Regions from separate parts of the Homo sapiens genome. Here regions 1, 2 and 4 are each linked to region 3. Evidence: fine-mapped expression QTL. A gene starts in region 3. Each other region holds a variant in brackets. All regions are shown on one strand. Distances are from middle to middle. Region 1 overlaps OMA1 (OMA1 zinc metallopeptidase). Region 2 holds the start of TACSTD2 (tumor associated calcium signal transducer 2). Region 3 holds the start of OMA1 (OMA1 zinc metallopeptidase). Region 4 has its middle 11 kb from the start of TACSTD2.

Region 1 (7,881 bases), 22 kb after region 3:
GGTGTTTGTTAACTTTTGTTTTTAGTGCTTATGTATAATAATCATCTCAAAAATGTATTGAGTGCCTCATTTTGTCCAAAACACTGTAATACTGAAAGTAGGTCTTGCAATCTTTATAACTACTTTGTTAACCATAATTTTTTTGTTTTACATCTTTCTTTGAATATTTCCTCTTGTCCCAGGAGGTTTGGTTATTTAGGAACAATCTGTTATTTGTTTATTTAATGATTTGTGGAGTTCCCATCAGAGTGCCATCTGGGTGCTGTTTAAATCTAATGTGCAAAATTCTATGAGACAAATTGTTTTTGAGATTGGATAACTAAGTCTATTATTCAGTATTAACATGTCATTTGGCTTCATTTATATTGAAGTAAAGGTTCTTAAAGAGAAAATAAAAGATTGGTTATTCCTTAGGTTGTAGGATCTCATATTTTGAATTTTGTTTCTGTCACTGACCCGCCAGGAAATTAAAAGAATTAATGTGGTTATTTTCCTGATCTATCTATAGATTGCTTTTTTTTATAATGGAATCAGCACAGTTGGTCATAAGAAAGATAACATTTATCTATTTCTTTCTTGAAATACTTGATAAATTCTGCCACTTCACTGTAATTCGTCAATGAAAATAAAGTAGGAATGATTCTATTTGAATTATTTTTTCCTAAATCAAGGCCCCTCAATAATTTTGGTGACGAGGAGATGTTTCTCTCTAGAAAGTTGCTCACTGTGATTGGAGAGCAGAGAGGAATGTTGATAGTGAAGTCATTAGGGTGTGGGAATTGCTGAGGTTCATCTGTTGTGAGGACCGAATGACACATTTAAAGCAGGATTTCTCAATCTCAGCACTACTCACACTTTGGACTGGATAATTCTTTGTTGTGGGGGAGTTGTCCTGTGCACTGTAGGATGTTTAGTAGCATTTCTGACCCCCATTCCCTAGATGTCAGTAGCTCTCCCTCCTCTCAGTTATGACAGTAATAAATATTTCCAAACATTTGTAAATGTCCCTGGAGGACAAAATCACACTAGGTTTAGAATCATTAATTTAAAGCACTTAGCACAGTACCTGGCACAAATCAGGGCTCAATAAATATGAGCTGTTATTTTTGTTCATTTAATCCCCTCTGCAGCTCTGTGAGCTTGGAACTGTTACTAGCTTCATTTTACATATGATACTACTGGGTTTAGCAGGGTTAAACAATTAGCTCAGGGTTAACAATAAGTTAACAGTATTTGGACTTGAACTTAAGTTTCTCTCTTTTTAAAGCCACAGTTTTAAATCCTTATGTTATCAATAGACTTGACGGGGGCACATGCAGCCTGCTCATGGGGAGTGAAGGCATTATATGATATACATCATTGACCTAAAACAGACTGATTGAAAAGGAAGGAAGTCATTTGTAATGGTCACATACTGTATATCAGATTTATTATATTATTTCAGGCCATCACAGACATGTGGCTACCTTTGAAAGATTGCTTCCCCAATTAATAGCTCTTTTCTCAAAAGTCCTGCCTATTGATTCATCTCCTACAAAGTTTTAGTACTTACTGAAAATTAGAATTTAACTGGAAAGCATTCACATAAATACAAGTAATTAGGAAAATTAAAGTTACTGTATCTATGTGTGTTTTTTATTGAAGTCAGAAGAAAATTTCATTTTCCCAACTAATCAATACTTAGAAAAGAAAAAGGAAATTAAGATAATTTATCAAAGAAAGAGCATTCTGCTATATGGTTAATTTTTTTACTGAAATAAATTGTCTAGTAGTGTCATTGGATATTATATGCCTACGTTTTCTTGATTTTCTTTTAAAACTCAAGGTCAAAATATTCCTTGACCATATTAAAAAGCCTTCATCAATAAGCTTTCTTAGTGAATCCTGTACTCAGTAGGTGGAGACTATAATTGGAAAAATAGAAGTAAATTCCTTATACTACAGACTGTCAAGAAATTTATAGGCATGACTTATATCCTTATCATTTTTTAAAGTATTTCTAATCAGGGAAATAAAGGCTGTGTTTATATTTTATATCATGGAGTTATTTTAATGTTAGTAGACAGTATAGGAATTTTATCCTAGATACTCCATGAAACTGTTTTTTAAAAATCTCTCTGTGTTACTCCTTTTTTCGTGAAATAAATTGTCTTAATGGAGCTTTTCTGTCATTTCTTCTTAGTATATGTTTAATAGACCATACAGCAGAAAATTGGAGGCCGAAGCTGACAAAATTGGACTACTGCTTGCTGCAAAGGTAAAGTGTTTAGTAGTTGAGAATACATAATGCCCTTCCCAGGCTGAAAGATAAACGTGTGTTATTTTAATGAGGCTTGGCATAAGCAGAGAATGAGAGTTGGACTGTATTAGCCCTTTATGTAATTTCTGTTAATCTAGAAATTTGAAGATTATGGACCTTGAAAGAATGTATAACTGAAGAGTCTCAATTCCCTTCTATATTTGAAGCTGTATTATGCCTTAGACAGAATCCATAAGATTATAGTAATTATCAGGTTCTATTAAAAGAAAGTCAGTTCTTGATTGGAAATAATTTTTTGCGTGTATAAATTTTTTGATCATAGACATGAAACATACAAATTGAAATTTTAAAACATTTGGTTATGTAATGTGTCATCCCCTCTGGCCTTTTAACATTTGTCCCTCTGGAAAGCTAATGCTATCTCTTTATTTTACTCCAGTACTCCAATATTTTACCCCTTGCTTCTCTGATCTAAGGAGGCTTTTTGAGTAAACAGGTTGATAGGTAGTTGTTTTCCCCCACTTGAAGATAGGTTGATCCTGTTGTAGCTATGATCTTGGCTAAGCAAACTGATTTTCTACCATTTAAATAAACAGTAGACGAACAGACATTTAGGTTATTTTTGTTGTAGCAGATGGCTTTTTTTTTTTTTTTTTGCTAGCCATAGAGAGCAGCTCTGGGCCTTTACTTTTATTTAAGTTGACTTTGTTCCTGTCTACTTAACAGGGCACCTGGCAGCTATTTTTAATCACCTGTGATAACTGAGTGTTATTAGTAGCATTTAAGATTAGAAGTAAAACTGCATTTTAAAAAAATGAGTGAAAGCAATGCCACTTCACATATTAAATTCAAGTTTTAATTGATCCTTTGTTATGTTTCTGGTAGTTATTAAAACTATTAATCATTTTATTTGAACCTCTCATAAGTTTTATGGATTTAATTTCATAAATCAAGGTATTACTCCTTCACAAAAGCAAAATCAGTTCTTTGAATGTTAAATAAATGTGATTAAGTGAATTATCAGACTGCGTGCACTAAGAAGTTCCCACATAAGGGGGCCACAGATTGGCTGTATTAAGAATTTCCTAATTTTCATGTACTCCAGTCTGTCAGATTTTCCCTATATGTTAAGTGTGTTCTGTGTTCTGGTTAGGAAATCTTTGTTTATCTCAGTAAGTTATTCCTGCTTTATTTCTAATAAACTTTACTATTTTTAAAATATATAATATGAGGAAGAGGGCAACATCTTTTTTTTCCCCTATGGATAGCTAATAGACTCAGCACTGTTTATGGAAAAAAGTCACCTTTTTTTCACCAGACTTCAGTGTCTCTTTGTCATAAAGGTGGGAGTATATCTGGGGTCTCTTTCTAGACACACTATTCTGTTCCATTGGCTTGTTTATGTTTCAGCCAGTACCATATTATCACTATAACTTTGTAGTAAGTGTTGATACCTGAAGCTTCTGTCCTCCAGTGTTGTTCTGCAGAATTGATTTGACTCTTCTTGGATCTTTGCATTTCTATATACATTTTAGAAATAGCTTATTAAATTATACATACATAGAAAAACACATGGGGTTTTGATTGGAATTGCATTGCATTTATACATGAATTTGGGGACACTTGACTAGTGTCTGTAGTATTGATTCTTCCCATCCATAAATATGATATATTTTCCAGTTTGTTTAGATGTTTAATTTTTCTCGATGTTTTGAAATTTTTTTGTATGTAGGAATTACACATCTTTTGTTAGATTTATTGCTAAGTGTTTGATGTCATGATAAATAGTGTCATTTTTAAAGTAAATTGCTTGTATATAAAAATACAATTGATTTTATAATTGACCTTGTACCCAGCAACCTTTATTTCTTCCTTTCCAATCTGTATACAGTTGACTCTTGAACAGCATGTTTTTGAGCTGTGTAGATCCACTTATACATAGGATTTTTTTCAATAAATATATTGGAAGGTTTTTTGGAAATGTGCAACAATTTGAAAAAACTCACAGGTGAACCATGTAGCTTAGAAATATTGAAAAAATTAAGAAAAGGATATGTCATGAATGCATAAAATACATGTAGATATTAGTCTTTTATAATTTTTTACCATAAAACACAAATCGGTTATGAAAATTTATCAAAACGTGTGCCTACACAGACCATACATGGTGCCATTTGCAGTTGAGAGAAATGTAAACAAACAGAAAGATGCAGTATTAAATCATAACTGCATAGAATTAACTGTGGTACCTATGGTACTACTCTTATAGTTTTGTATTCACTTCCTGTTGCTAATGCAGTGATCTCAAATATTGTGAATATCTACTTAAAACACCAGAAGACACTAATCATCTCCATGTGAGCAGCTTTCTCTCCA[G/T]TAAATTGAGTATCTTAGTAAATGGTCTCTTGCAGTTCTTGCATATTTTTCATTGTGTTTAGTGCAATACTGTAAACACCTTGAGTAATACCATGAGACCCATATGAGTTGCTGCTAGTGATACTGGAAATGTTCCCAGGAAGTAAACTCATGATATTACAAGAAAAAGTTGAGTTGCTTGATATATACTGTAGATTGAGGTCTGCAGCTGTGGTTGCCTGCCATTTCAACATAAACGAATCCAGAATAAGGACCGTTGAAAAAAGGAAAAGAAAATTTGTGAAGTCATAGCTGCAACTCTACCAGCAAGCATGAAAACCTTGCACTTTTTGCAAAAGACTTTTATCTTGTATAGAAGATGCACCTTTTATGTGGGTGCAGGATTGCCATAAGAAAGGCCTATCTATAGACTCTAATATGATTCAAGAAAAAGCAAAGTCATTATATTACAACTTAAAAGGAAGATGAAAGATCTAAAGCTGGAGAATTTAATGCCAGCGAAGGATGGTTTGATAGTTTTAGAGATTTGGCTTAAAAATGTCAAGATAACAGGAGAAGCAGCTTCTGCTGACCAAGAGGCAGCAGATGCATTCCCAGATGCTTTAAGAAAATCGTTAAGGAGAAAGAATAGCTGCCGGAACAGGTTTTTAATGCAGATGAAAGTGTGCTATTCTGGAAAAAAGATAATGCCATAAAGGACATTTATTAATGAGCATCAAGATTTAAGGCAGAAGGGATATGCTAACTCTACTGTTTTGCGGAAATGGAGTTGGATTTGTAAGTACTTTCCTTATCTATAAAGCTGGTAACCCCTGAGCCTCTAAGGAAAAAGATAATACCAGCTGCCAGTCTTTTGGTTGTAAAGCAAAAAGGCCTGCTACACAATGAGAACGCTTTTTCTGGATTGGTTCCATCCATGCTTTGTTCCTAAAGTTAAGAATTATCTTGCCAGTAAAGGCTGCCAGTTCTTTTTTTCTTTTTTTGAGATGGAGTCTCGCTCTGTCACCCAGGCTGGAGTGCAGTGGTGTGATCTCGGCTCACTGCAAGCTCTGCCTCCCAGCTTCACACCATTCTCCTGCCTCAGCCTCCCGAGTAGCTGGAATTACAGGCACCCACCACCATGCCCGGCTAATTTTTTGTGTTTTTAGTAGAGATGGGGTTTCACCGTGTTAGCCAGGATGGTCTCGATCTCCTGACCTCGTGATCCGCCCTCCTTGGCCTCCCAAAGTGCTGGGATTACAGGTGTGAGCCACTGCGCCCGGCCAGGACTGCCAGTTCTTTTTACATTCTCAATTCCTCTGGTCACCTGGAACCCCATGAGTTCAACACTGAAGGCGTCCAAATGGTCTACTTGCCCCCAAACACAACATTCCTAGTTGAGTCTCAGATCAGAGGGCCATAAGGACCTTTAAGGCTCAGTACAACAGGGTACTTTAGGGAAAGGTTGTTACTGCTATTGAAGAGAACCCCGATAGAACATTATGAAAGTCTGTAAGGTTTACACCACTGAAGATTCCATCATTGTTATAGAAAAAGCCATGAAAGCCACCAAGCCTGAAATAATAAATTGTTGATGAAGCAAACTATCCAGATGTTGTGCGTGACCACACAGAGCCAGTCAAGGAAATGATGAAAAGATTATGGATATGGCAAAAAAGGTGGGGAGTGAAGGGTTTCAATATACAGATCTTAGAGAAATTCAAGAGCTAATAGAAACACCTTATCAGGGGAATTAACCGTGGATGACTTGATGGAGATGAGTGCTTCCAAAATGGTGCCAGGTAGAAAAGACATAGTAGTGCCAGAAAACAAATTGACATTAGACAATCTAGCAGAAGGATTCTGATTATTCAAGACTACTTTTGACTTATTTTACAACAGAAATTACAAAGTATCTCCATTAAGTTACACTGATTATGCCTGCCTTTCCTGTCTCCCGTTCTACCTCTGCCACCCCTGGAACTGCAAGACCAACTCTCCTCTTCCTTCTCAGTCTACTCAGTGTGAAGATAAGGATGGAGACATTTATGATGATCCACTTCCACTTAATGAATAGTAAATATATTTTCTCTTCCTTATGGTTTTCTTAATAACATTTTCCTTTCTCTAGCTTATTTTATTGTAAGAATACAGTATATAATACATATAACATACAAAACATGTTAATTTACTGTGTTACTGGCAAGGTCAACAGTAGGCTATTAGTAGTTAGGTTTTGGGGGAGTCAAATGTTACATGTGGATTTTTGACTGCACAGAGGGGTCAGTGCCCTTAACCTCCATGTTGTTCAAGGGTCAACTGTACTTTTTAATTTTTGCTTTATTGCAATAGCCAAAAACTTTAGTACAAAGTTGGTGATGGGCAACTTTGTATCTCCCTGATCTTAGGGGCAAGAAAGCATTCAGTATTTCACCATTATGATGTTTGTTGTAAGCTTTTTATAGATACTTTTTTATCAAATGAAAGAGTTTCTCTTCCATTTCTAATATCCTAAGATTTAAAAAAATTATGTATATATATTAAATTTTATCAAATGCATTTTCTGCACTTTTTCTTCAACTTTAAAGTTCCAGGGTACATGTGCAGATGTGCAGGTTTGTTACATTAATAAATATGTGTCACAGTGGTTTGCTGCACAGATCAACTCATCACCTAGGTATTAAGCCCAGCATCCATTAGCTATTCTTCCTGATGTTCTCCTTCCCCCTGCATTTTCTGCCTGTATTGAGATGATTATATGATTTTTCTCCTTTAATCTGTTATTGGGCAAATTACATTAATTTTTTTTAAAGTTAAGTTGCATTTTTGGGGAAATATACCTAATTTTGTCAATTATCCCTTAATATATTGCTAGAATTGGTTTAATGCTTAGTTTAGAATGTTTATCCTATGTTCAAAGGAGATAGTCGCCTAGAATTTTCTTTTCTTGTAATGTCCTGTCAGGTTTTGGAATCAAAGTTATGCTGGCCTCATAAAATTGATCAGGGAAGTGTTCTTCATTTTCTCTTCTCCAGAAGAGTTTTTGTAAGATTAGCTATATTTATTTTTTAAACGTTTGGAGAATTCCTGGGTAAAGCCATATGGGCCTGAAGATTTCTTCATGAGTTTGTCTTTAATTATGGATTCAGTCTCTTTAATAGATATAGAACTATTCAGATTTTTCTATTTCTTGTTTCAGTTTTTGTAGTTTTTCTAGGAATTTTTGTTTAATTTTCAAAATCATTGGCATGAAGTTGTTTTAATAT
Region 2 (7,840 bases), 27 kb before region 3:
AAAAAAAAAAAAGAAAAAAGAAATTGTCCCTCACATGTCTCTGCTTCCTCTGTCTGTCAAGGCAGAATATATTTCAATCTTCCTGCCTCAGGAATTGCGTGAAAATTAATGGGACAGAGGCCCAGCTGGCTTTCATCTGCTAAACAACACCCTTGCACGACTGGTGGTGCACATTAAATGCTGAACATATAAAATGTGCTTTGATGGAGGACCTGGGAATAATTATAGCTTGCTAATTATTGTTAATTTTACCACAGCTTTGAAACTCTAGACTTTCTCAATGACTCAAAAAGAGATTGCAACCCCTGTATGCCATGAAACTAGCCACACAGTGGCAGACAAGCAATTTCTCACAGGCTCCATTCTTTCATTATTTACATGGTTCAGCTACTTACGTGGGATACAGGAAAAGAAAAGCAACGATTTGCTGTGTTAGAATCAAATTGTACAAAAAACTCTTTACAGTCTTGCTGGCTCTTTAAGAATTTGTTCCTGTTTGTCTCTTTATAGCCAGTGCACAAATAAATATTATGTGCGTGTGTGCCTGTGTGTGTGCGCTTGTGTGAGGTACAGAAAATTAGTGTTTAACAGAACTTTTAACCCTCTGGACACCAGGATACCTGTGTTTTACCCTTGATATGGTGAGTAACAGAACTGCTTCCCTAACTTCCCTTCAGATTCTGTGTCACTTCGTGTCCACAAACACTTTATTTAAGGTCTCATCACTCCTAGGCAGGGTGCCAAAGACCCCTCTCAGAAATATGAGGAAGTTGATAGCAGTGTGACTTCAGGTCTTTAAGCCTCATCAGTACCACCTATAAAACGGGTCTGATAGTCCCTACCTGTCAGGACTGGTGTTAGGATGAGATAATGTTTGTGAACTGTAAACTATATAAACGTGTGCTACTGTGAGAACTGGACAAAGAAGAGAGGGAGTGAGAGAAATTAAGGGAGGGCTGGGGCTGGGAAAGAACGAAAAGGGAGTCGCGTATAGAGGAGAGCGCGACAGTCGCGAGCCACACTTTGCAATGAAACTCTTTAGACTTTCTGCCGGGAGAGCGGCCCAGACGCGCCAGGTCTGTAGCAGGAGGCCGCGCCGAGGGCGGGTCCCCAGAAGCCTACAGGTGAGTATCGGTTCTCCCCTTCCCGGCTTTCGGTCCGGAGGAGGCGGGAGCAGCTTCCCTGTTCTGATCCTATCGCGGGCGGCGCAGGGCCGGCTTGGCCTTCCGTGGGACGGGGAGGGGGGCGGGATGTGTCACCCAAATACCAGTGGGGACGGTCGGTGGTGGAACCAGCCGGGCAGGTCGGGTAGAGTATAAGAGCCGGAGGGAGCGGCCGGGCGGCAGACGCCTGCAGACCATCCCAGACGCCGGAGCCCGAGCCCCGACGAGTCCCCGCGCCTCATCCGCCCGCGTCCGGTCCGCGTTCCTCCGCCCCACCATGGCTCGGGGCCCCGGCCTCGCGCCGCCACCGCTGCGGCTGCCGCTGCTGCTGCTGGTGCTGGCGGCGGTGACCGGCCACACGGCCGCGCAGGACAACTGCACGTGTCCCACCAACAAGATGACCGTGTGCAGCCCCGACGGCCCCGGCGGCCGCTGCCAGTGCCGCGCGCTGGGCTCGGGCATGGCGGTCGACTGCTCCACGCTGACCTCCAAGTGTCTGCTGCTCAAGGCGCGCATGAGCGCCCCCAAGAACGCCCGCACGCTGGTGCGGCCGAGTGAGCACGCGCTCGTGGACAACGATGGCCTCTACGACCCCGACTGCGACCCCGAGGGCCGCTTCAAGGCGCGCCAGTGCAACCAGACGTCGGTGTGCTGGTGCGTGAACTCGGTGGGCGTGCGCCGCACGGACAAGGGCGACCTGAGCCTACGCTGCGATGAGCTGGTGCGCACCCACCACATCCTCATTGACCTGCGCCACCGCCCCACCGCCGGCGCCTTCAACCACTCAGACCTGGACGCCGAGCTGAGGCGGCTCTTCCGCGAGCGCTATCGGCTGCACCCCAAGTTCGTGGCGGCCGTGCACTACGAGCAGCCCACCATCCAGATCGAGCTGCGGCAGAACACGTCTCAGAAGGCCGCCGGTGACGTGGATATCGGCGATGCCGCCTACTACTTCGAGAGGGACATCAAGGGCGAGTCTCTATTCCAGGGCCGCGGCGGCCTGGACTTGCGCGTGCGCGGAGAACCCCTGCAGGTGGAGCGCACGCTCATCTATTACCTGGACGAGATTCCCCCGAAGTTCTCCATGAAGCGCCTCACCGCCGGCCTCATCGCCGTCATCGTGGTGGTCGTGGTGGCCCTCGTCGCCGGCATGGCCGTCCTGGTGATCACCAACCGGAGAAAGTCGGGGAAGTACAAGAAGGTGGAGATCAAGGAACTGGGGGAGTTGAGAAAGGAACCGAGCTTGTAGGTACCCGGCGGGGCAGGGGATGGGGTGGGGTACCGGATTTCGGTATCGTCCCAGACCCAAGTGAGTCACGCTTCCTGATTCCTCGGCGCAAAGGAGACGTTTATCCTTTCAAATTCCTGCCTTCCCCCTCCCTTTTGCGCACACACCAGGTTTAATAGATCCTGGCCTCAGGGTCTCCTTTCTTTCTCACTTCTGTCTTGAAGGAAGCATTTCTAAAATGTATCCCCTTTCGGTCCAACAACAGGAAACCTGACTGGGGCAGTGAAGGAAGGGATGGCATAGCGTTATGTGTAAAAAACAAGTATCTGTATGACAACCCGGGATCGTTTGCAAGTAACTGAATCCATTGCGACATTGTGAAGGCTTAAATGAGTTTAGATGGGAAATAGCGTTGTTATCGCCTTGGGTTTAAATTATTTGATGAGTTCCACTTGTATCATGGCCTACCCGAGGAGAAGAGGAGTTTGTTAACTGGGCCTATGTAGTAGCCTCATTTACCATCGTTTGTATTACTGACCACATATGCTTGTCACTGGGAAAGAAGCCTGTTTCAGCTGCCTGAACGCAGTTTGGATGTCTTTGAGGACAGACATTGCCCGGAAACTCAGTCTATTTATTCTTCAGCTTGCCCTTACT[G/A]CCACTGATATTGGTAATGTTCTTTTTTGTAAAATGTTTGTACATATGTTGTCTTTGATAATGTTGCTGTAATTTTTTAAAATAAAACACGAATTTAATAAAATATGGGAAAGGCACAAACCAGAAGTCGGCATTTGTGAAAAGTCCCTCCAGATTTCTATCACATTGGTCTCTAATTTCCCAAGACTTGTATTTTTTTTTTATTTCAAATTATAACACTTTTTTTTCCCCCAGAAGTGGGTGTTTCATGTTGCTACTCTGGTGTGTCCTAAGATATCCTAACTGGCCAGTGTAAATGCTATTCTTTCTAAATAAGATTATTTGGAAACTTCCTTCAAACTGCAGGAGGGTGAGCTTGAGGGAGGAAGCTAAAACTAGCTGCTTTTATGAAAAAGAGTGCCAGTCTTTGGTCATCTCTAAACAAGGCTTATCACCAATGGAGACAGAAAACTCTAGTTCAAGAGCTGTACCTCCTTTGAATCCCAGCCCTACTTTGAAATAAGTGGTACTATTTCCATTTAGCCTTTGAGCAAATCACTTAATCTCAAAGCGTTGTGGCTCTAAGATTAAACGACTTTCCCACATAATTAGAGCCAGTCTGCAGTGGGCCCTACACTTTTGCTGGGTGTGCACAGGCTGTTTTCCTAAGACTTTTACTTATTACATATATTTTTTGAGATGGAGTCTTGCTCTGTTGTCCAGGCTGCAGGGCAGTGGAGTGAGCTCAGCTCACTGCAACCTCCACCTCCTGGGTTCAAGCGATTCTCCTACCTCAGCCTCCTGAGTAACTGGGATTACAGGTGCCCACCACTATGCCCAACTAATTTTTGCATTTTTAGTAGAGATGGAGTTTCACCATGTTGGCCAGGCTGGTCTTGAACTCCTGCCCTCAGGTGATCCACCTGCGTCGGCCTCCCAAAGTGCTGGTATCATAGGTGTGAGCCACTGCACCCAGGGATTTTTACTATTAATGTGCTTTAAAGATATGTTTTACCTATTAGCTGTAAAAACTAGCCACTTGTCCCTCTTACACTTATCTCTTACTTTTCAGTCATTCACGTTCATTTATGTGTGTGACTGTGGGGTACCCCACAAGTAAACAAGTTACTACAGTAACTGAGAAACTGATACAACACTAGGTGTGTACAAAGGAAGGGAGTGGTTGGTATATCACATATTCAGCAACAGCTAAGCTAGATCCAGGACTGCAGTTTCTTCCCCTGGAATCCATTTCATGCCCCTCCTCCCATCCTGTTTCTACAGTCTATGAGGACCTCCCAAGACTGAAACACCAGTAAGAATTGGGGAGAGATAGCTCTCAGCTACTGGCTTCTCAACTTAGGGCTGTGGCTGCTATGCGCTGGTGGAGTGGATACTGTGGGATTGCCAGAGATCTCAAAGTCTGCTGCCACTCATCAAGGGAGAAACTCCTCCAGGCTCCAAACTTCCTTCCAGGGTCAAATAAGACTTACCAAGGGGAGAGGGTGGATGTGAGCAGGCTCTCCTACAGTAGGAAGGGTGGCCCAAGTACCTGAAGTTAGAACTGGCTCTCTAACAATGAGAGTGAGACTCCCCACTCTAGGTCTCACTGGGTGCTTTCCACTTCTGAGTCACTGAAGTGCTTTGACGGAAGTGACCTTGGTGATCACCTGTGACCTAACCCCGCATTTCACACATGAAAAGAGCAAGTGAATTCTCAAGATTAATGTTTCTGTAGCACAGCTGGAACCAGAAAGCCTCATTGTTTCAAGAGTCACTTTTAAAAACTCACTTGTCTGCCTGGAAAATAAAGGATCCAGTGGGCAACTGAACAAAGCAGACTCCCTGAAAAAGCCCCTTACTCCATCAGAATGTTGCTTCTGGATGATATTTAGGTTTCTGCATTAATTCAGGACTGTGACTTCTTGCACTTTATAGCATTTATAATTTGCAAAGCGTTTTCACACATATAATCTTCTTTGAGCCATTGACTTACTGGAAGTAACCCAAATGTTGACAAACCTGAGGTCAAATCTTATTCCTTTGGGTCAGGAAGTCACTTACCTCCCCTGTTTCCTCATTAGTTAAATGAAACTATAAATCCCTCTCTCGCTATTATGAATATTAAATGAAGTAATTGATATGAGCGTCTGAAACAATCTGGTGCTTAGTGAAAGTTTCATGTACTTTAAATTGTTTAGATTACATCCATGTCACATGTCAGCAAACTGAGATTTGAAAGACATTGAGTAAATTCATGAACACACACCCTGCATATACCAAATATGGGGCTTGGGACTTTTGCCTTGTGTAGCTAAGATTTTTACTGTTAATGTGCTTTAAAGATGTGTTTTACCTATTAGCTGTAAAAACTAGCCACATGTCTCCATTATACTTATTTCCTCCTGTTCCTGCTGGGTAGCCAGCAGGTTAAGATGCCTTTTTTTACTCACTTCTTCCAAGGAAGAGCCCCCTCATGCTTCTGTTCTGAAAATCAGCTTTCCTCTGCTGGGGTCGGGTCTTAAGAACCAGCTATCTTCAGGGATTGAGCAGCTGCCTCCAAGATTCCACCCACCTCCCCACCAAAAACAAACAAACAAACAAACAAAAAAATACCTTACAGTTCACTGGTTCACTGCCGAGAGCTCAGACCTGGGGCTGCCCTTGGAAGGAATGTGAGGAGCAGGTGTGGCTTGCCCAGCAAGTTGCAGCCTGCCTTCTGAGCCTCCTGAGGACACTTGACTGATTTCCTTGTGTAGGTCACCAGGGCTTTATCCATTCTGTTTCTTTTATTGAAGCATTTTTTTAAAGATCACCCATTCCTCCCTCTGCTTACAAATTTTTTGCTTACCATTTTCCAAGTGGAATCACAGAATGTTATGTCAGAGCTGGAAAAAGCTTAGAGAGTCATTTAGTTCAACATTCTGATTCTATAGATGAAGACACTGAAGCTCATAGAGGAGAATGGATTTACCCAAGTCAGACAGAGAGGGGCAGAGCCACCCTAGAGCTCTAACACCCTGACTCTATCCTGTCTGGTGTTCCACTTGCCTCCCTGGTTAGTCTCCTGATGATGTATTTAGTAAATAGTCACTCTTGTTAGAACTAGAGGAAGGTCCCCCAAGTTCTTGGGGGAAAAATACTAGTAATGAGTGAGTTCTTTCTAATGTAATGTGAACAGAACTTCCACTCCACTTTCTGAAGGAGATATCTCTCCATAGACTTCTGCTATTAGAGGAGGCTAGAACAACCTTGGAAGCCTCCTGTTTATATAAAACAAAGGACCCTTTGAGACCTGAGTAGATTTCCTTTACAATTACTAGCAGGTCGTGGTGGACATCTTCCAGCTGTAATTTCCCTCCTGGAACCATTCCCTGTCATTGCTAAATATCATTAGAGGTTTCATTATAGCCTTTTATAGTGAGCTCAAAGAAGGAATTGTTGGGAGGGATGGGGATGGATGGGGGGCTGGGCCCATTCACTATTAGGGAATTATACTGTAAACAGGGGGGTTGTGTCCCCTGGCACTGCAGCAAGCCATATGTCATCAATTTCAGTGGAAATTCTTAGGTTCATGATGTACAAGGAGGCCAAATTGATCTGGGTAAGAAGGGAAAGATAAATGATCCACAGTGATAGCCTGAACATGTTAACCAGCAGTTTATCAGCAGGCAGCTCAGCTTACCAAGGCATCTTGTCTCCTTGCAAGGAAAGGGATCTTGACTAGATAAGCATTAACTCCTTGGAATCCTTGTGCCCAGCTTTCTCCCATGCTGGATGTAGCTGATCTCTTAGGTGGCCTCAGCACTCTCCACTCCCTTGTTATCTGATACTGTTGGAGGAAATGTCCTGGCCACCCAAATATTTTTATGTGAAGCACATTGTCATATGCAATTGAAGCAACATAATACAGAAGGTGGGAAAAGGTACTAAACTATGCCAGCAGATGAGTCTTCAAGTCCTTGTTCTTGCTTTCCAGCTGTATTATCTTGAATATGGCAGTTCACCTCCCTGAACCTCACATTTGCATTATAAAATGGGTCTAGTAATATCCACTCACTCTAGCTCATAGAGCTCCTGGCTCCTCATCTGACCTCAGTGGGACTGGGGTGATCTCGACTAAGCAGCCAGTTTGACCAGTGTTGGCTCTAGCTGGAGTGCAAAGGCCCCAGTGATTGTGAGCAGTTACCCTGAAGCAGGCACAAGTTGGACAGTCTGTGTCCTCAGAGATGCCTAGCGTTGGTCATTTATTTGTTCCCTCAAATATTTTTTGTCTTATTTGATGCCAGATATCATACTAGTTTGGGGAACATATGAATTGAACAGATACGGTTTCTCTGCTGCTCTTTTTTTTCTTACTTGGCATCCCCACAATGTTTTCAATGGGGGAAACACCCACATTGTGTGAACCTTGATGGGAGGCCTGATGGTCCTGTTCCCTGGCAGGTGGGATATGGGCATGTGACATGGCTCAGCCAATTGAACTCTCCTGCCTGGGCAGAGACCTAGAGGATATGAAGCCATAGATCAGGACAATTGAGAAATTTTCTCAGAACAGTACTGGCTTTGTCAAGAGCACAGCTGTTCCATGGGTGCCAGTGTCCAGTGGCAGCAGCGTTGGTAGAATATCCCAATCGGATTGCCCCACAGCTTGACATTGGCCACATCCCCTGCTGCCTAGGCAACCTTAGGTCCTGTTCATTTTCTGGGTCTGATTCACCAGCCTTCCCACTGATTCTGTGAACTTAATCCAAATCCTCCAATAAATTCCTTTTATGCTTAAGTTTAGCCAGAATCCTTTTCTGTTGCTTAC
Region 3 (5,000 bases):
AAGGAACTACCTAGCGTGTACCAGCAGGAGCCAGGAGAGGACCCCTGGAATGGGATTTCTGAAGGTGCTTGATCAAAGTGGGCAGGAACTGTGGCGGGATTGATAAGGAATCAGAGATACCAAGAGGTTGAGGAGGATTTATTATTTAGGTGCACCGGCCCAGTCGGATTAACATCCAAAGGACTGAGCCCCGAACAAAGAGTCAAGTTACCTTTTAAGCATTTTATGGGGTTGGGGGAGATCTGTGCAGGGAGAAGCATGTTACAGAAGCAAGAAACAAAGACAGTTATTTAATTAATTGAGGCATGCATTACATCATTTCTTACTTTTCAAGGAAAAACGTGTCTTAATGGCTTGAGTTTATCTGTCTAGTGACCTTGCAGCGCACAGCTAAAGAAACAGGGTCTTTACAATGCCTGGGAAAGGGAGAGATAAGGCTCACTAGCCACAGAAAAACAGGCAGTTAATATTTAAAGGACTCCAGCTCTTTCTCTTTCTCGGGGGGAGGTGGGTTTTCTTACATAGAACTGAGTTTCTGTTTACACATTCTTTAATTTCTTTTAATTCCTATTCCAGAACAAGCCTGGCTAAATAAAAATTCATTGTCTTGGGGGCACTTTCTTGGGACTTGGGACTGTAGAAGATGGGTAAACTCACTGCTAGGTGACTATTAGAAGCTGAGAGAAAGCCATAGTGCATGCAGAGTAAAGCAGGAATGCCCGAATTGCCCTTGCAAATGGTAGAAGGACAGAGGAGCTGAGGGAAGTGGACTTGCCTGAAAGAATTTTTTTTGTGTGTAGAGCCCGAAGGCAGACAGAGGGGAATGTTCCATGGGAGGCCCAGAGGATGCATCATATTCTATGGCCATGGGGAATGCACTGGCGTGAGGGGCACTAGCATCACTAAGAAGTTCAGAGAAGGCTCTCCTCTGGAGGGAAGGGCTGACGGTAGGAGAGGCAATCACAGGGCTGGGCTTGATAATATCCATTGGGATAACAGGATCCTGAAGTAGTAGAAGCCAGGTGGTGGCTTTAACCATGAGGACACCAGAAGATGTAATTACTGTAACATCTGCCAAGGGCAGAGGAGCAGCCAAGGGGGCTTGATCCACAGGAGGTTGTGGAGGGCTTTAATAGCATAAGGTCTCCCTAGGGGAAAAACAGACGGGCAGCCAACAAGAGTGTTGCCTAACATCTACAACTGGAGGAAGACAAGAAGCTATTTATCCTATGCAGGGAGTAGTTGCTTAATAAAAGGCACTGCTCATTGCTCAAGTCTCAGACCTGAGCCTATCTTCACACTGAGACCACAGAATCTGTTGACTTAAGAGGTTGTTGGGTCCCTATAAAGAAGAATCCTGCAATACTGAAACAAATATTTACTGTAATTAATGATTACTCTTTGGTCTGTGTCCCACGGCCATTTTCTTGACTGATTTTATGTTGAGGAAAGAGGAATACCCAGACATTTCACAGGTGTTACCCAAAGTATGTAACACACATGGCTCCTCTCTAAGTGTGGGGGCTTATGGGGATCAGGTAATAAGCAGAGTCCTGGATAATGTCCAGCTTACAGTGGGTCCAGGAATACACTGACCCATCCAGTAGTCATTTTCTTAGTTCCTGAGTGCATAATTGGGAGTACATATTGGGCAGCTGGAGCAATCTCCACATTGGTAAGAAGCTCAGGGTCCTTGGTCTTGAGTTATCATGGTGGGGAAAGCCAATGGGAAGCCTCTGAAGCTGTCCTTCTTTCCAAGTGAAGATAATAAATCAAAACCGATATTTCATCTGAGGGGATAGTGAGATGATGGTGGAGATTAATGTCATAATTAAAGACCTGAAATATACAAGAGTGGTTGGTCATCCCTGCCATATCTCTACTTAACTTGCCAGTCTGGCCCCTTTGGAAATCAGGTGGACCCAGGATAATGACATAATGGCTCTGCGCAGTCCAAAAGGAGCTGGATCAACTGGAAATTCCAGAGAACATCACACCCATCTATTTCACCAATGACATTATGCTAACCAGGCAAGATGAGCAAGAGGTGGCTAGCATGCTGGAAACTTTGGTAAGACATGTGCACTCCAGAGTTTGGGAGATAAACCCTACGAAGACTGAAGGACCTCCTACTTCAGTTTTTAGGGGTCCAGTTGTCAGGGGTTTTCCAGGATATCCCTTTCAAAGTAAAAGGCAAATCATAAAATACACATAAGATAAACGAAACAGTAACTTACACATTTTCCAAAAGAGATACCTAAAATTGTTCATAGTGTTTATGTCCTTTGACATAGTGTTTATGTCCTTTGAGATGTTTTCATTGTGCACAGAGTGTAAACATAATAAACTAATATGAGACCTCACTACTCATCCATCACAATCCAGTGTTTATTTGTACTGGCTTATTTGTACACTTTTATTTATTTGTGTTTATTTGTACACTTTTTTTTAATCGCCTGTCTTTCCTCACTGTGATATAAAGTTCACGAAATTCAGGTCTGTCTTGTTCACTGCTACATCCTTGGCACTTAAAATGTAGTTGATGCTCAAGAAATATGTTTTGGTGAAATGAATGAAACATACTATACACATAATTTTGGAGCCAGCTACTTTAACCTCCAGACACTTAAGATTATACTTCATCTTTCTTAAAATGCGTCCCTCCAAAAATCATATGAAAGCACTGTTCCCATACTCCAAAGACTATTTCTATGAATGCAGATTCAGAACCAGGAAGCCTTCGTCTTTTGGCAGTCTTCGAGTCTCTTCCCTTTTGGCCGGTACTGCCGTAGAGACTACAACGGACACAGCCTTGCGTGGATCATTCTTTAGAGGACCCAACTCACCAAAGACGGGAGAAAGTTGTTCCTAGGCAAGCAGCCCAGCCCAGGGCCATGTCCCGCCTTAAGCCACACGGAGGCGCTAGAGCGCCACAGTCTCCGCGGGGCCCGGGGCAGCTGGGAGAACGACTCTGGGCGGCTGTATTGACTGCCGGGTGTGGGCGGAGCGAAGGGCGCCCCGGCCGGTATGGCGGGCAGGAAGTGCGGGTGCGCGCCTGCGCATAGGTCGGGTCTGCGGTGTCACCGCTTTCGCTTCTGCTTGAGTCAGTCCTCACGGTGACGCTTTTCCCCAGCTTTTCCGAGTAGGATCGTGCCCAGGGGAGGAGGCAGAGTGCGGCAGTGGGGAGGGGGCGGAGCGCAGAGCGCCTGCGGGGGCGCCCGGGCAAGGAGTGGGGATCCTTGGGGATGGGGGTACGGGAGGAGGCGTGGGTGGGCGATAAGGCTGCGTGGAGGGGAGGGGCGGGGGGCGCCGGGGCGGGAGACGGAGGGGATCTGTCCTGGGGGAGCCCGGTTCTCCCCTAGCCTTGCCCGGGGCACGCCGGTGACCCCGTGTGTCTGCCCCGTGGCAGTACTTTCGTGGGCCGCCTGCCCTCCCCCTCAGCCCGCCCTTATCCGCGGCTCCGCTTTCAGAGCAGGGTTTCTCACCCGCGGGGCTTCGGGCTCCTCACCCGGCACCTCTGCCAGAGGGGACCGCCTCCCGGCGCGTCGGGCATTCGTCTCTTTCACCCCTTCCCTCTTCAGGAGAAACTGAACACGTTTTCCAGCCTAAACTCGGCAGGGCAAACCAGAACATTCCCCGTCTAAGCAGTTCCGGGGAGTTTTAACAATTTCCTCGTAAACTCGTCTACAGAACTCACTGTATACTGTTTAAATGTCGCCTGTGTGTGGAGCAACAGTTTTATTGTGCCGTGCAATCCTCAACAAGAAATTGTAGTCCAGGGAGATGAAAATCCCTTATTTGGCATTCAGGCGTTGATCAAGGTCGTGCAACCCTCGCTAAAAGGATTTAGGTTCATCTCCGTCATTCTCAGCCGGGGTGAAGGGGTGTAGTCTGACATTTGGAAGCTTAAGAACCAAGTCTGCTGCCGTCCAATTCTTTTTTAAAGCCTTCCATCATGTGTGTACTTTGCTTGAATGATTATTTTAAAGTACATGTCCTATTTTTGCCAATCTGACAGCTGTTTCCATAGAAACTAGAGAAGAAATAGTCATTTTCAGCAAGAGTTGTTAAAACTGTCTTCCAGGCTTCAGCTGTGAGTGCCAGTGAGTGCTGCACTTGCTCATTCGGAGATGGTACTTAAAGAATTAAGGATCTGAAATGTTCGTAGAGGCTAACAATCCAAATTGTTTAATTTTCTCACATCATTAATTTTGTTATCCTAGAAGTCTGCCAGCTATGTTTGTTGACCTGCCACAGCTCTTTGAAGAGAATATGTCAGCCCTGATTTTTTTTTTTCTTATGTGCTCTGTAGTCTAGTGATTGGCTCCTTGAAAATGCATGAATAGATTTCTTCCCTCATTCTTTACCCTTTCTTCAGGATAAACCGGGTATTACAAAATATCAGGCACTGTTTCTATTCAAAACGACACTTGGTTGTCAGTGATAGAAATGATAATGGTTTTAATTATATATGCGTAGTGTTGGGGCTTTTGCTTATACCTTCTGTGTCAATAGGATTCTTTTAAAATTTTTACACAAGTCATGAGAAATGAGAAGGAGTTTGCTTGTCATGTGCAGAGCTAAGCAGTGTGAATAGATGTGCATAGACATAGAGATGAGAGCTTTCTTTTTCTGTGGGGTGTAAGTAAATCAGGGAGTTTGGAATTTAGGAATGGGTGAAGGAGGGTTGGGGAAGGTGCCTGGAGAAGTAGTAGGAGGGCCTGGTTCGCCATATGAAGGAGTTTGTGGAAGCCATGGAAAACCAACGAAAGTCCAGGCGTGGTGGCTCATGACTGTAATCCCAACACTTCGCAGTGCAGTATGATCAGTTGAGCCCAGGAGTTAAAAACCAGCCTGGGCAACATAGTGACACACCGTGTCTACAGAAAAAAATTAAAAAATTAGCTGGGCTGGCCAGGTGCGGTGGCTCAGGCCTATAATCCCAACACTTTGGGAGACCGAGGTGAGCAGATCACTTGAGGCCAGGAGTTCGAGACTAG
Region 4 (7,881 bases), 41 kb before region 3:
GGCTGCCAGGCATGCAGCTGGCATGGGAGCTCCCAGTTCAGGGGCTGAGGTAGGCTTTGCTGTTTAAGAGCATGAACTTCAGAGACAAAAACACCAGGGTTTCGATCTTGAATCCATCCCTTACTAGCTGTAGGATCTTGGGCAAGTTTCTTATCTGTCTAAGCCTTGACTTCATCAGATGGAAAGTGGAGCTAATAACAGCACCTAAATTCACAGTGTATTTGTGAGAATAAGATAATCCTTGAGCCTATATCACAGAGAGTTCAATAATTGTTGAGTCTTATTTTTCTACTCAAGGACTTCTCTTGCCTTTTGGCAGGTTCTGAATTTCTCTGGGATGGAGCAGAAATAGAGGGAGGGAAAAGGAAGGGAATGTGGCATACACTGAGAACCTGTGTCACATCAGATGCTCTGGTGGCATGTCTGCATAACATTAGCCCCATCTTCCAGTGGAAGGAATGCAGATGGTAGAATAGAGAAATCTGGGTTGGAATCCAGGCTCTGAAACTCACTTGCTGTGTGAGTCTGGGCAAAGATCTTCCCCTCTGAGCCTCAGTTTCCCACCAATTGTGGCAGTATCTACTTGGTATTCATGCCATATGGATTATATGAGCTAACATCATGTAAAAATGCTTAGGCAGATGATGCTCAGTAAATGTGCGTTTCTTCATTCCCAAGGGGACAGCTGGTTGACAGAAGGACTTGAATAGAGAGAGGAAGAACATGAGGACATGCCAGAAGGGAGTACCCTTTGGGCATCAGGATGCTGGAGGGGACACACTTCTCTAACCCCCCTGAGAACTGGGCTGCTATAAATGGCATGAGTAGACCTCTCCTTTGGGCTGGCAAAAAGACTCAGATGGCTGGCTCCCTCCCTCCCCAACCTTTCTGGGCCCAGGGCATGGGAGAGGATGGTAATGACAGAGCAGAAAGGAGTCCAAACAACAGTTATAAATGTCAGCACATCTGGATTTTGGCTCTGGCTCTAGCATTTATTAGCCATATGACTTTGGACAAGCCCTCGTGATCTCCCTGAGCCTCAGTTCCCCATCTAAAATGGGGATAATATCAGGTATCTTCTGATTATCTATTGTGGCATCACAAACCACCCTAAACCTTAATGGCTTACAACAATTATTACCTCTCAGGGTTCGTGTTGACTGGACTCAGCTGGGTGGTTCTTGCTTGGGGTCTAGCGCAGCTGCAGTCAGAGGCCCCTGGGGCTGGACTTATCCAAAGGCTTGACTGGGCTTGATGTCCAAGGTGGCTTTTTTACTTACCTGGGCTGGGAAGGCTGCAAGTCTGGACGCTGGTTGGACACCTCTCTTGCCATGTGTCATCTCTAGCTGGGACTTCTTCTTAGAGTAGTCAGACTTCTCACAAGGCAGCTGGCTTCCCATAGAGCATGCATGCCAAGACGCCAAGGCAGAAACAAAATGGTTACCTGTGACCTAGTCTTGGAAGTCCCTTTGTGTCACTTCTGCTACATTCTATTAGCTATAAATGAGATATGGGCCCAGCCCAGATTCAAGGCGAAGTGAAGGGAGGAGTGTCAAAGATTTTTCACCATCTTGAACCCACCACACCACATATCCCATGTACCTCGCAGGGCTGTTGTGAAGGTGAGTAGCAATGGCATGCATGAAAGCCCTTAGTGTAAATCATTACAGAGACATGAGGTTATTGTTCCACGTCCATCCTTTTCTCTCTTCCCTAAATCAAGCACTCATCCATCCTTTCTATCCTGTACCAGTAGCCTCCAGAGTAGCCTCTTTGCCTTTTGTGTCTCCCTGTCAAATTTATCCTCCACAAATGCCTGCCTATATGTCTATCCCAGGTGAAAAACTATCACTAGCTTCACGATGTGGCTCTCACTTACCCGTGCAGGTTTGACTGGCCATATGCTCCCAATCCCCCGCCATATTACTCTGTTCCAACCTTTGGCACCTTTGCTCACACCATTCTTTCTTTCCAGAGCTCTCTTCTCTTTCCATTTCTGCCCACACTCCAACCCTTCTGGTTAAACCTGTCCTCATGTTTTAAGATACCCTGCAAATATCATCCCTTTGTCCAGCTAACAACTCTTGCCCTCACTACTGCTGCACATACCTGTTGAATTCAAATTCCCCCTCTGTGTGCTCCCCTAAATCCTGTGTTCACTGCAGACTGGTCTCGCCGTTCCTCAAAGGGCCAAGCACAGTCCTGACTCAGGGCCTTTGCACGTGTTGTTCCCTCTGCCTGGGATGCTCATTTCCTAAATATTCACTAAATATCTGGCTTCCTTACTTCATTCAGGTCTCTGTTCAAATCTTGCCTCTCAGAAAGACCTGCCTGACCAGCCAATCTAAGATAGCACAGCCTCCCTCACTCTCCCACCCTGTAACCTGCTTCTTTTCCTTCAGAGCACTTGTCATCTGTCTAGGGCCCATGCAATATGGGGCTGCAAGAGCCAGCTGTGTGAATCACTCCCAAATTGGCACTCAGTGACACCATGTTGATAGCTTGAAATTGGTCACAGGGAGAGTACACTAAGGCCCCTCCTGCCCTCAATTTAGAATCTCTGATGGAACTCATCACCTTCATCTCACTTAACAGGGATAGTGAAATGGCTGGTTCAAGGTCACACAGCCAGTTAATGAAAACATTAGGCAATTTGGTTTTAAGAAGGAACTCAGAAACCAGTTGCTTGAGTTCAAATCCTGACTTCACCATTGACTAGCTACTTGAAAATCACCAAAGGCTACAAATTAGGGTACTTTCTTTTTTCTCCTGGAGAACTTGTTTTCAAACACCTATGTGCATACTATTCTGTGTTTATTTCATTTATTGTGTATCTCTCTCACTAGATCATAATTTTTGCAAAGGCAGAGGCTTTACTAATGCTTAGTCCCAGCATCTAGTGCCATGCCTGACACAAAGTATGTGCTCAATAATGTTTGTTGAATGAACAAACAAATACGCAAACCAACCAATGAGAAACAATAATCACATCCAGTTGTAAACTGAGTCTTTGAAAGAAGACATTGGCTCTCTTTTCATCTTTTGTGCTCAGCACACAGCCTGGCACATAGAAGGAGCTCAAGGAATGTTGATAAACAAGAGAATACCCTCTGAAGACGGCTGCATCTACATCAAATCCAGCTGCTCTCTGATAAGCATAAAAAACTGCACCAGACAACTCCACTGGTATTTCCATTATGCGCCAAAGAGAAACCTGCAGGAACTCAGGCAAGAAAAAAGCACTGGCCTGGGAGGCAGGAGCCTGGGTTTTTAATCCCAGCATAACTGTGCCTGCTATGCGGCCTCAGGCAAGTCACTTCTCCAACCCAGGCCTTAATTTTCCTATTGGTAAAATGGGGTGATTGGAAGTAGATGATGGGGTCCCTTCTAACTCAGAGCTGTGGTTGAATTTATGTCTGGATCTGCCCCAGGCAGGGCTGCTCTAAAGTAGCAGGAGGTGGCTGATGGACAGAACTGGCCTTCTACAGGTACAAGAGGCAGGATGTGGCCAGGATGCCACAGCTGGAAGATAGCATAGTGCTCCAGAGTCTGGGACACCTCAGAGCTGTGGGATGGGCCCCTCTCTTCTTCTCCGGTCTCTACCTCTGCCCAGAAACCATTCCAGCTCCTCCCGCCTGTCTTCATATGGCACCTGACTTGAGGCTTCCCTGAGAACAGTTAGAGCATTGGCTGCTTTACCTACTGGAGCAGGACACGAATAGGAAGGCTCTGATACAGGGAGGAGCACGGAGACGCGTTACATCTTGGTAACTTTGGCTTGTGTCTAAACAAACAGGTTGGCTAAGTTGGTCAGCCCGCACCTTGTTTCCTGTTATTTATGTTACATGGAGCATAAGCAGTTCAGAGCAATCGAAAGAGCCCTGATTTGGATAATAGAAACTACCATTTATTGAGCATTTATTGTGTGCCAGGTGCTGCTTTAAGCTAAGGGTCAGCAAACTACACTGGCCAAATTCTGTTTTTGTGTGGTCCATGGGCTGAGACACTTTTAAATTTTGAGACAGGGTCTGGCTGTGTCACCCGGCTGGACAAAATCACAACTCACTTCACTGCAACCTCCGCCTCTTGGGCTCAAGCCAACCTCCCATCTCAACCTCCCAAGTAGCTGTGACTACAGGCACATGGCACGACGCTGGGCTAATTTTTGGATTTTTTTAAAGATGGGGTTTTGTCATGTTGTCCATACTGGTCTCAAACTCCTGAGCTCAAGTGATCCACCCTCCTTGGCCTCCCAAAGTGCTAGGATTACAAGTGTGAGCCATCGAGCCTGGCCGAGATGTTGTTTACATTGTTAAATAATTATATAAGTACT[TC/C]ATAATTATCTTGATTTGTTTTTTTTTTTTTTTGACAGGGTCTTGCTCTGTCACCCAGGCTGGAGCACAGTGGCGCCAACAAGGCTCACTGTAGCCTCGACCTCTCAGGCCTAAGTGATCCTCCCACCTCAGCTTCCCAAGTAGCTGGGACCGCAGGCACACACAACCACACCTGACTAAATTTTAAAGTTTTTGTAGAGATAGGGTTTTGCCATGTTGCCTGGCTGGTCTCGAACTCCTGGGTTCAAGCCACTGCCCGCCTCAGCTTCCCAAACTGCTGGGATTACAGGCATGAGCCACCGCACCCAGTCTCATCTTTAATTTTGATCCTTAGCACACAAAGCCTAAATTGTTTATCTAGCCTTTAACTAACTAGTTTGCTAACCAACCCCTGCTCCAACTTTTTTTTTTTTTTAACATGGATTAATTCCTAATCCTCACAATAACCCTGCAAAGTAGGTTAACTATTATTATCCCCATTTTACAGATGAGCAAATAGAGGCAGGGGGAGGTTAAATGATGTATTGAGGTCAAATCGCTAGTAAATGGCAAAGGCAAAATTTGAACTCAGGCAACTGGTTTCTGAGTTCCTTCTTAAGACCAAACTGCCTAATGTTTTCACTAACTGGCTGATGATCTTGAGCAAGTCATTTCACTGTCCCTGTTAAGTGAGATGAAGGTGATGAGTCCCACCAGAAATTTAAAACTGAGGTCAGGAAGGTCCTTGAAATGAATTTCAGGGAGTCTGTGACTCTGGAATCTGTGCAAAATATACTGTCTTTGTGCACAGTTGCATTATTTGAAGAGAGAATCCATCACTGTCTTCAGAAATGGATTCTGTGACTCAAAACAGAACTACTGGACTAGCTTTCTTGGAAGGCTATCTCCAGCCTTAACATTCTTCAATGTTATTTATTTGGATTTTTTTCCTCATGTGCTATCTGTTTAGGTTGTCTTTTCTGCCTAAATGTTATTTATTTCAGATGCCTTTTAAAATGCAAATGTTATCTATTGGATTGTATTTGCTCCCACCTCCAAATTGCTACATACTCATTACCTTTAAAAAATGAGAAAAACAGACAACCTTAAGAGCCAGTGAGGTTTTTCTACTGATGTATCCTGCAACTCTATATAAATAATCTGTATAAGTGGAGAGGACAGGAGATATGGTTTATAAATCCATATTGTAGTTATTCATATGTTTCCATGTTATTTATTTAACAAATATGTACTAAACCCCCACTAGGAGGTAGTTGCTGTGTGCACTGTAACCTCCATGGAGCCAGGGGTTAGGTGTAACTTGCCATTGTACCTCCTCAGCCCAATACAGACCTGGCACCTGGGAGGCACTCAGTGAGGATGCCTGCCTGCCTGCCTGCCTGGCTGAAGAGACGGATGAATAGAAGGCTGGAAAGTATATGAAAAATCAGTAGTGTGGGTGGGGAAAGAGGTTCAGGGTGCTGAGCAATTTAGTTGTGTTGGTTTCTGGTACCTTCCAATTGGCAGCCTCCCATGATCTTGGAGAAGCTTTTGAGGGCAGTCCTCATTTTCCCATCAGTCATGCTTTGAAAGATGCTAGTTGAAGATCAGCTGACAGAGCCAGGACTTCTCACATGAATCCAAAGAAATTAATCCATTTTCTTACATCCCACTAAGGTCAGAGGAACAACAAGGACTTTCTTGCCCTTTGTCTTGGGCCCACACATCCCAGAATTAGAGAACAATGAAGTCTCCTCTTTCCTGCCTGCCTCATTCTTCCTAGACTTCTGAACTTTTCCTCTCTCCCACTCCTCCTCGCCTCTACTTCCATCCCTGGTGTGAGTCTTGTGACTCATGACGGCTGAGAGTAGGAGTGCAGTTGAGCCCCTCAGCACACTCAGCCCTGGACCGATGTGACTGGAGATGTCTTGAGATGGACAGGAACAGGCGCAGGGAGGAGCAGGAGGGTAAGCCATGCCAGGGATGTAGCTTGGGTATTAATGTCTGTGGGAGGGGCAGCACAAGAGCTAAGGAGAGCATCTTCTACCAGGGAGACTGAAAGGTTCTGTTCTGCTTTCTTGTTTTGAACAAAACAAAACAAAATTCACCTGCACTAGGCTGTACTGTATTCATCTGCAGTGTCCATAATACTTGTCTGTCTTCCCAAAAGGAGAAGATAGCAAAACTTACTATCCATACCATCTAAAGGTAGTAAGTTGTCGGATAAAATCAAAGCCTTATCCTTACTTGGATTCTCTTGAGAGGCCATTTTTGATGTTCTGATTCAGCATGAGTAAGAGAGGTTAGGGTATAACTTGAACTTGTATACCAGTGAACTTCTATACTACCATGCTGGAGTTTTAAACATGTTGGGTTCAGGAAATTTATATGGTCTGTAGCAGCATGATGTCACAGAAAAAGCATAATCTCAGAACCAGGCAAAAAGGGGTGTGAGCTGGGTGCAGTGGCACGTACCTGAAGCCCTAGCTACTTGAAGCTGAGGTGGGAGGATTACTTGAGCTCAGGAGTTGAGGCTGTAGTGAGCTATGATTGCATCACCGCACTCTAGCCTGGGCAACAGAGAGAGATCCTGTCTCTAAAATATGTTTAGAAAAGAATGTGAATTACAGCTGTTCCATTTACTATTTGTGTATTCTTAGACAAGCGCCCTTCTGCCTGTTTCCTTATTTGTAAAGTGAGAATAACAAAACCCACTCCCTTCAGATGTTATAGGGATAGAGGAAACACATGTTGAGTTGCTGGCTGGTAATAGGCTCTCAATACAGTGTAGATATTTATTGTAAGTATTGCCCAGAAACCATCTGTTCCTAGAAAAGAGGAAATTGATAGATAGGTAAGGGGCTGTTAGGGTTACTCCTGCCTTCCTAGACAGGGGAGTAGAAAGGCAAGACAACAGGAGTAAAACCTCCTCAAAGCTTCCCTAGAATCCTCTGCTGGTATCTCTCATAATGTCATTTGCTGGGCTGGGCCACTGGTGGAGATGGTGCTTGCCACCACCTAGGGTGTGAGGTTGGCACAGGAGGAAGGATGACGGGATAGGGACGTTCCACTAGAGAAAGGCAATGGAAGAGGCAGGGAGAGAGCAGGAAAGGGGAAAGTCTGGGGACAGGAGAACTGGCTTCAAATTCCTGAGGAACCAAGGAGTGAAAGGGGAACATTACTTACTCTTTCTTGCTCCAAGAGTAGAAATTTAGATCAGTTTGTGAAAATTACAGAGGCACTGAATTTCCTTAATTATGATGAACTTCTTAGTAAAGCTGCTTGGGACTGGAATGGGTTGTCTTGTGGGGAGGTAAGGATGTTGCATTATCACAGGTAGCCTACAAGCACCTGTTTAGCATTCTGAGATACCTCTCTTTGGGTGGGAGACTGGAATACATGTCCTCTAAGACCCCTTTTGATAACTCTAAGGAGCCTCACTTGGATCAGGACTGTCCAGAAAGGCAGACGAATTTGTCAGTAGCAGCAGCCCACTTAAGACCTCTCACCACCTGCCCTTATCTCAAGGACAGCTGAAAGTGGTTAAAAACAGCAAACACCTCCACAT

The links. PIP is the estimated chance that this variant, and not a neighbour inherited with it, causes the effect.
Region 1: its variant is fine-mapped to the expression of OMA1 in whole blood (TOPMed, PIP 0.94).
Region 2: its variant is fine-mapped to the expression of OMA1 in whole blood (TOPMed, PIP above 0.99).
Region 4: its variant is fine-mapped to the expression of OMA1 in whole blood (INTERVAL, PIP 0.98).

Annotation. Positions count from the first base shown.
Region 1 is chr1:58,521,637-58,529,517 of GRCh38, reverse strand. OMA1 (OMA1 zinc metallopeptidase) reads left to right here. Exons shown (of 9, transcript NM_145243.5): 7 at 2,183-2,257. It also overlaps a transcript of DAB1 not described here. Among named protein-coding and RNA genes, the nearest start is that of OMA1, 21 kb to the left of the region's middle. The variant G/T (reference allele first, on the strand shown) is at 4,637.
Region 2 is chr1:58,570,757-58,578,596 of GRCh38, reverse strand. It overlaps TACSTD2 (tumor associated calcium signal transducer 2), which reads left to right and starts at 1,345. Exons shown (of 1, transcript NM_002353.3): 1 at 1,345-3,164. The coding sequence starts at 1,441. The coding sequence ends at 2,412. RefSeq lists enhancers at 1,187-1,881, 1,882-2,577, 4,428-4,517, 4,668-4,867. The variant G/A (reference allele first, on the strand shown) is at 3,049.
Region 3 is chr1:58,544,806-58,549,805 of GRCh38, reverse strand. It overlaps OMA1 (OMA1 zinc metallopeptidase), which reads left to right and starts at 3,080. Exons shown (of 9, transcript NM_145243.5): 1 at 3,080-3,103. It also overlaps a transcript of DAB1 not described here. RefSeq lists enhancers at 2,642-2,831, 3,045-3,671 and silencers at 3,232-3,331, 3,342-3,431.
Region 4 is chr1:58,584,808-58,592,688 of GRCh38, reverse strand. No RefSeq gene overlaps it. Among named protein-coding and RNA genes, the nearest start is that of TACSTD2, 11 kb to the right of the region's middle. RefSeq lists enhancers at 1-112, 7,399-7,881 and a silencer at 6,038-6,332. The variant TC/C (reference allele first, on the strand shown) is at 4,334.